2 linked regions of the Homo sapiens genome follow. The protein of the gene in region 2 purifies or fractionates together with the protein of the main gene of each other region. This does not show direct contact. Each region holds a gene or a part of one and is shown on either strand. Other genes may lie near its edges.

The links. The genes of interacting proteins can lie anywhere in the genome.
Region 1: the proteins of MMS22L (region 2) and PINX1 purify together in Homo sapiens (co-immunoprecipitation; one large-scale study listed by IntAct). This does not show direct contact.

What each region holds. Positions count from the first base shown.
Region 1 is NC_000008.11:10,826,376-10,829,875, reverse strand, and holds part of PINX1 (PIN2/TERF1-interacting telomerase inhibitor 1), read left to right. Parts: intron 1-3,500. UniProt on the Homo sapiens protein: Microtubule-binding protein essential for faithful chromosome segregation. Mediates TRF1 and TERT accumulation in nucleolus and enhances TRF1 binding to telomeres. Inhibits telomerase activity. May inhibit cell proliferation and act as tumor suppressor.
Region 2 is NC_000006.12:97,280,417-97,284,649, forward strand, and holds the start of MMS22L (protein MMS22-like), read right to left. Parts: upstream 2,801-4,233; 5' UTR 2,680-2,800; exon of another isoform or gene 2,571-2,679; intron 2,138-2,570; 5' UTR 2,062-2,137; coding exon 1,898-2,061; intron 947-1,897; coding exon 821-946; intron 1-820. UniProt on the Homo sapiens protein: Component of the MMS22L-TONSL complex, a complex that promotes homologous recombination-mediated repair of double-strand breaks (DSBs) at stalled or collapsed replication forks.

The DNA of each region.
Region 1 (3,500 bases), on a different chromosome or scaffold from region 2:
CCTGTCTCTCCTAAAAATACAAAATTAGCTGGGCGTGGTGGCGTATGCCTGTAATCCCAGCTACTTGGAGGCTGAGGCAGGAGAATCGCTTGAACCTGGGAGGCGGAGTTTGTGGTGAGGCGAGATCACGCCATTGCACTCCAGCCTGGGCAACAAGAGTGAAACTCCATCTCCAAAAAAAAAAAGAATGTAAGAATGTAAGCATGAACATATAAGACTTGGAGATTAAATAGAATGCAGTGGTTTAGAGACAAACACCAGAGTTAGACTGCCTGGATTTTAATCCTGGTCTGACTTTTCATTTGTATGACATTCGGTAAATTGCTGAACATGGCTGTACCTCGATTTCCTCTTTGGTTAAATGGAAGCAGTAGTATCATCTTTGGAAGGTTGTTGTGAGGACTAAATGCATTATAACATCTAAGAAAAGCAAGCAGAGATACTCAGCACTGTAAGCCTCCTGATAGTGTGGCTGGCAAATCTAGAGCCATAAACCACGATTAAGGCCAGAAAATTTACTTTACTCTGAAGGATTTCATAAAGAATCTAGGGTTTTATTTTCTCTCTCTCTTTTTTTTTTTTTTTTTTTTGAGATGGAGTCTTGCTCTGTGGCCCAGGCTGGAGTGCAGTGGCACAATCTTGGCTTACCGCAACCTCCGCCTCCCGGGTTCAAGCGATTCTCCTGCCTCAGCCTCCTGAGTAGCTGGGATTACAGGTGCACACCACCACGCCTGGCTAATTTTTGTATTTTTAATAGAGACGGGGTTTCACCATGTTGGTCAGGCTGGTCTCCAACTCCTGACCTTGTGATCCACCCACCTCAGCCTCTCAAGGTGCTGGGGTTACAGGCTTTAGCCACTGCACCTACCCTCATGATTAGTAGATCACAGTGAATAAAATTAGCAGATCTGTTATACATTTTAATGAATGCTTATTAAACACATCTCTTTGGCAGTGCACCTCCTGATGAGCTGGGTTAGCGTAGGGGTGTGAGGGCCGGGCCAGCTGCTTTGATTGCTGCTTTGACAACAGTATTTTCCCTTGTCCCTCATTGATCCCGGTAAGAGGAAAGTTGTGCCTTTCCTTTGTAAAGTGGGAGGGGATACCCGGGAAAGGACGGCCAGATTGGTGCATAAGTCAGACTCCGAGCAGTTTCAGGCATGAGTGCACGTGAACAAATAGATAGAAAGTGATTCCTCAAGGCCTGGCGGTGCTCACGCATCCTTCTTGATACCTGCATGCTGAGAAGGTAGAGACGCTCACCAGGTGATTCTTCTGCCCTCTCAAGGCTGAGAGAGCTGCTCTGTGAGGGCACGGCGTGGTGCTTCAGGATGTGGCCTCTGCGTCATGTCTGCCTGGGCTTCGGTCCCATCGCGGGGGCTTCCTGGGTGTGCCTTATCAGTGTCGTCCTCTGTAGTGAGTTCAGGCATCACAGCAGCTCTCTTATGGAGTGGCTGTGGGAAGGAAATCCAAGAATTCATGGAAAGCCTCCAGTCCAGCGCCTCGTCCCTCATACACTTGCAGTCGGTAGGAGCCGCTTTAAGCTGATAACTTCCTCTGTGATTTGTGATTGGAACATCAGCATTGAAAATGTTATGTGCCATATGAAGTGCAAAAGAGAAGAATTTACTGGTAGGATGTCTTTGCAAAAAATCCAAGGTGTCCCTGGGAAGTGGCTGCAGAAGAGAATGTTTCAGCTTGTGGAAATAATGAGCCCGTGCTGGGCTTTGCCTCAAGTGCGGAACATCTGCCTTCACGTTCTTTCGAGCCTGCTGTATAGTTCCCATAGGGAACTATACCTTTGAAATAAGTGACTCCTGGGAGGGGTTGCAGTGCAGTCACATGTTGTTGAATGGACACGTGCTTGTTTCGCTCCACTGTCAGGGTGAGAGTTTCTTTTTTTCCAATTTCTCTTATATCCTCTGAAGAAGGTTGGTTTGTTGGATTTTTTTTTTTTTTTTTTTTGAGATGGAGTCTCGCTCTGTCACCCAGGCTGGAGTGCAGTGGCGTGATTTCGGCTCGCTGCAAGCTCTGCCTCCCAGGTTCACGCCATTCTCCTGCCTCAGCCTCCTGAGTAGCTGGGACTACAGGTGCCCGCCACCACGCCCGGCTAATTTTTTTTTTTGTATTTTTAGTAGAGACGGGGTTTCACCATGTTAGCCAGGATGGTGTCGATCTCCTGACCTCATGATCTGCCTGCTGCGGCCTACCAAAGTGCTGGGATTACAGGCATGAGCCACCGCGCCCGGCTGCTTTTTTTCCAGTTTCTCTAACCTCATATCTGAATGTTCTTAAAACTGTAGGAAAATTTAGTCTCTCTTCTGCCTATGATCGTTTCTGTGGCACTCTTCTGTCTGAACTTGACAAGCAGATACAGGTGAGAGAATGCAGGTGGCTAGCTAATTTATAATTGACTCTAACCCCAGATCAACCTGCTCTGATCAACCTTTCAGGCAAGGACCTACTTTCTGGCTCACATTTTCCCTTCCGTCAAAGGCGTTACCACTCGGATGTCTTCCTCAATGGTGTGTTCCTGCTCCTTTTGCCCTTCCAGTTGTCCTTCCCGAAACCCTGAAAAGGTGGCTTGGAGCTATTGCTGCTCCTCCATGCGTCACCTAATCGTCATCTCTGATCTGTATTTAGGTGATCATTTAACCTGTCTTACCTTTATTTACTTTTTAAAGGAACTTTTTATTTTGAAATAATTACAGGCTTGTAGGAATTCGCAAAATAATTCAGAGAGTCCTGAACGTCTTTCCCCCTGTTCTCCCAGGGTGGAGAGACATTACATTGCTGTGGCTTTTCGCAACCGGGAAGTTGACATTTGGTGTTACTGTCAACTGCACCACAAACCTTAGCCAGTTTTCATCATCTTTTTTTGGTCTCCATTCATTTGTACATGGGCGGATGGTTCTGTGCAATTTTATCACAAGTGCAGATTCATGCAGCAACCACAATGGTGAAGATACAGGATTGGCCACCACGGCACAGCAACCTCATGCCTCATCTTTGTATTTGTACCCACTGTACCTTCATCCTTGTCCCCTCGAAACCATTCATCTGTCCTCTCTCTCTGTAGTTTTGTCATGTCGAGAATGTTCTGTAGATGGAGTCATATGTTATGTTTGTAGATGGACCTCTGACTAAGCACAATGCCCTGGAGTTTGTTTTGGCCATTGCGGTGGCAGCGGCCGCCGCTCTTTACTGTGGAGTGGTATTCCACTGTAAGGATGGCCCAGGGGTTGCTCAGCTGTTCATGCATTCACACGTTGAAGGACTTGGGGGTGATTTTTGGTATTTTGCTATGATGAATAAGGCTAATGTGAACATTTGTGTCTAGGTTTTGTGTGAACACAAGTTTCCATTTCTTCCTCAAGGATTTTCTAAATTTCTGGAGGGCAGCCTGGCCTGATCCATAGTATGCAAATTAAGGAAATATTTCTAATCATTTGACTCCTAGAAAGAAAACAGAGATCCAGCAGAAGGGTGCTGTTGCAGAG
Region 2 (4,233 bases):
CCGCCTCCTGGGTTCAAGCAGTTCTCCTGCCTCAGCCTCCTGAGTAGCTGGGATTACAGACGCATGCCATCACGCCTGGCTAATTTTTGTATTTTTAGTACAGAAGGGGCTTCACCATGTTGGTCAGGCTGGTCTCGAACTCCCGCCTCGGCCTCCCAAAGTGCTGGGATTACAAGCATGAGCCACCGCGCCTGGCCGTCCTCATCGTTTTTAAAAAGCACATATTTTTAAGAAATTCATACTGAAGTATTTATGGGTGAAACGACATGATGCCTAGGATTTCCTTACAAATACTTAGGCCAAAAGAAGAGGAGACAAGACAGATGAAGGAAATGTAATAAAAAGTTGTTGTTTACTGCAACTGAAGGAGGGTATATGGATGTTCATTATATTATTATTTTGTGTATGCTTAAAATTTTTCATTAAAAAAATTTTAAATGTTGTCCAAATAATTAATATTTCTATTACACAGTCTAAACAATTTATTTGTTAAGACCATACTCTAAAGATCACTGAAAGACTATGGCTATTGCACAACAAAAATATTTTAATTTTCTTCTAAAAATTATAGTTCAAAGCCTTAAATATTTGTCAATACATGTGTCAAATGCAAAGAATAAAGATTCTGAAAACGCAACTCATTAAAACCATTACTCATCAGGCATTGCTGCTTGATTATTGTTACTGGTAAGATAATCAAGTGAGCAACCAGCACAATTCCTCTGGTCTTTTGTAATATCAGTATTAGAAGCCACCCAACAACGTAATTTACAAAAGTGAACAACACCTACACTCACAGAAAGTTATAACGAAGAAATACCTGAATAAATGAAAGAGTTCTCTAGATGAATTCACTAATGCTGTTTCAGTAACCCACTGAATGCCAAATATTTCCAAGGTATCTTCTTCAAAATTAGTTGGTAAAGGGTCAAGATTCAAAATCAATCTGAAATGAAAATTGTTTCAATCTCATAAAAAGTATACTAAGTACCATAATACGACGGCTCTTTTCTTTACATTATTTGAATCCATATTATACATGACATGTATAAAAAGTCAGAAAATGCCTTGGTACTTTACACATTCAAGATTACAATAGCTAGACTGTATTAAAACGTCAATCTTCTATATTGATAAAATGTACGACTAAAGTGTAATGTAACTTAAGAGGAAAAATCAACAAGAATTCTAAAAAACATATTTCTGCCTGTCTTCACCAGTAGTCTTCAGTTGTAGAATTTCATCCTTTGAGGGGACATTTAATTTTAAAACTGCTAACAGTTATTCTGAGCCATGTCTGGAGAATAGTATCCAACTAATGAAGTTGAGTATTCTATTTAAGATTTCTAACAAGGTACAACTATAAGGTCAACAAAAATAGTTTCCTCACTGAAACTGCCTCAGCAGGTATTACCAAAATATTTCAAGAACAGTTTTACTGTAATATATATGTACCTGCCCAAGGCAAAATAAGTCTATACACTTCTATATGTGCAGGTAGGATTAGAAGGAACAGGGGCAATAAAAAATGTTTGTCTCTCTTAAATATTACTGGAAAGCTCTAGAATATTATCACACTCTTTAGAAGGAAATACTACTGCAAAAGGCTCAGATAGTTAGGAATTCATTTTAAGTAGAAGAAAAATTAGTGCCCAGCTCCCTACAGTAAGGGAACATCAGTTACCAAGGAAGTTTTCCCTAATACCCCAAATACTTTAGATATGCCCTTACCAAGAAGCCAGCAGAACTGATAATCATTTGTACCCTTATGATATACTAAGCTGATTTATAAAACACGACTTGGTGAACACCAAAGTTTAATGGGCTGAAATAACTAACATTCCTAAAAAACTGGTGAATAATCAGATGAGGGAAAATGTCTCTGAGTTTTACCTACCGCTTAAGGGCTCCGCTGCAGAGGTAGGATTCTCCAGAAAAATGTTTTCCTCCTCCTCTGTTGTCAACAGCACAAGAAAAGTAAGGAGGTTTGCACCATTCCGTCCCCAGCTCCAGCTCTAAGCTGTCAGTCAGGAACGTCGATGCAGCAGAACAGTTCTCCATTGTTTACTTCATGTTCTGAAACACTTGGGGTTCGTCGTATCATTAAGGGCTCCAAAGAGAAGGTGTGAAGAGATTCCTGTTGGGGGGGGGGGGGTGGGGCCGAGAGAGTGGGGATTACTTCAGAAAGTTCTCAAGACGTCCGCCAGCAGGAAGGAAAAACAAACGAACAAACCCAGAGGCCAAATTCCCAATTCCCCCTCGCCCTCCGTCCATCAAGGCTGTCAGAACTTAAGACAAAATGCACAACCAACTGGCTGTGGCAGGGACCTCGAAATCCGGCCACTAAGTCGGGCTCTGCAGCCCAGGACAAGGTGAAAAGCAAAGAAATGTCTGCAGGACATAGCGTCCCGGGCTTGCCTAGAACTGCGCCCTCCGCAACGTTTCTAAACCACTCTCCGCCCGTTTCCCAGCAGCAGGGTGGAGAACGCTCCCTCCCCGGCTCGGGGTGGAAATTAGGAAAGCAACCCCTAGGGCCAACCCCGACCCTCCAAGGAGGAGGCGAGACCCACCAGGCCCACGCCTGGCAGCACTCGGGCGGAGAAGGCGGGGTGCCGGTATCCCGCGTACCCGGCTGCAGCAAGGACCCGGGGCGTCGGTTACCCGCGGTGCCTGTCGTACCCGCTCACATTTCCAGCTCCCGAAACCTGCCTCCTGTGACCCAGACCACCAACAGGAATCTTTGGGGTCTAAACCGCAAACAGGCGAAATTCCCGCCACCGCGCGCCCGCGCTCCGGAAAGGCGGGGCCACGGCGCAGCCCTCCCCCGGCTACCAATCGCCTCGCGATATCTGCGCGGAAACAGTCGGAGCCCCACGAATTCTCGCGAGAGTCCGTCAGTCCGGGACGAGGTACTGAGAAACTTTTTTTTTTGTACCTTTAATTGGTGCGTTCGGCTGAAAGGCGGGGCCTGGTAAAAAAAAAAAAACAGAACTGCTGCTGAGGCGGAGGAGAGGACTTAAGGACTATGGGTTTATCCTCTGGCCGGACCAAAGAGAAGATATTTACTCCAGTGAGTGCGAAGTGAGTGCCTCGTTCACACCCACAGTCGCGCCGTCCCCTCTTCCCGCTCTGGGGCCAGCAACTCTTGTTAGAATGCAGATGCCTTTTGTCCATGGACTGTGAGGCAGGCAAGTGCAACAATTAATTTTCTCTGTAACAGATGGAACAAGTAGACAGAAAATTAGTATGGATATGGAAAACTTGGAAAGCACTAACCAACTTGACCTAATTGACGTTTATAGGTGACCAACCCAACAATAGCAGAATACACACTCCTGTCAAGTGCACATGAAACATTCACTAAGCGATACCATATTCCGAGCCATAAAACAAATGTCATCAACTTTAAAAAGATTTAAATCGTACAAAGTGTATAGTCTGATCATAATGGCATTAAACTAGAAATAAAGTAGATACTTGAAATACTCTAAATATTTGGAAATTAAGAATCATACTTCTAACTAACCTGTGAATCAGGAAAAATCACAGGAAAATTAGAAAATACGTTGAATTAAATTAAAATGAAAACACTAAAATTTGTAACAGTACCTGCTTACATTAAAAAGAAGAACTCAATTCAATAAACTTTTGTCTTAAGTAACTAGAAAAAACCCCCAGCATATTGAAACCAAAGCAAGCAAAATGAATGAAATGATAAATAGTAGAAATAAATGGGATGAAATAAATGGAAGGAAATACATGCAAAAGTTGTTTTTCTAAAAGAGCAATATAATTGATAACCCCCCTACCCAAACTGATAAAGAAAATAAACAAATTATCAGTATCAGGAATTAAAAAGGTTTCATCACTATGAAATTTAGTCATTAAAAGGACAAGGATATTAAAAGAACATTATGAACATTTTTATGCCAATAAGCATAGGTGAAATGGACAAATTCCTTAAAAGACGCAAACTGTCAAAAATCAACAAAAGAAGAAAATTTGAGTATCTCTGTATTTATCGTAGTACTCAGAATCTTTGGTTAAGCCTCCCTCCTCTCTCTCTGCACACACACACACACACACACACACACACACACACACACACCACTTCTTACAAGAAAACTTCAGGCCAGGGCAGGCACAGTGGCTTTGGGAGGCTGAAGTAGGTGGATCCCTTGAGACCAGGAGTTCCAGACCAGCCTGGGCAACATGGTGAAACCCTGTCCCTTG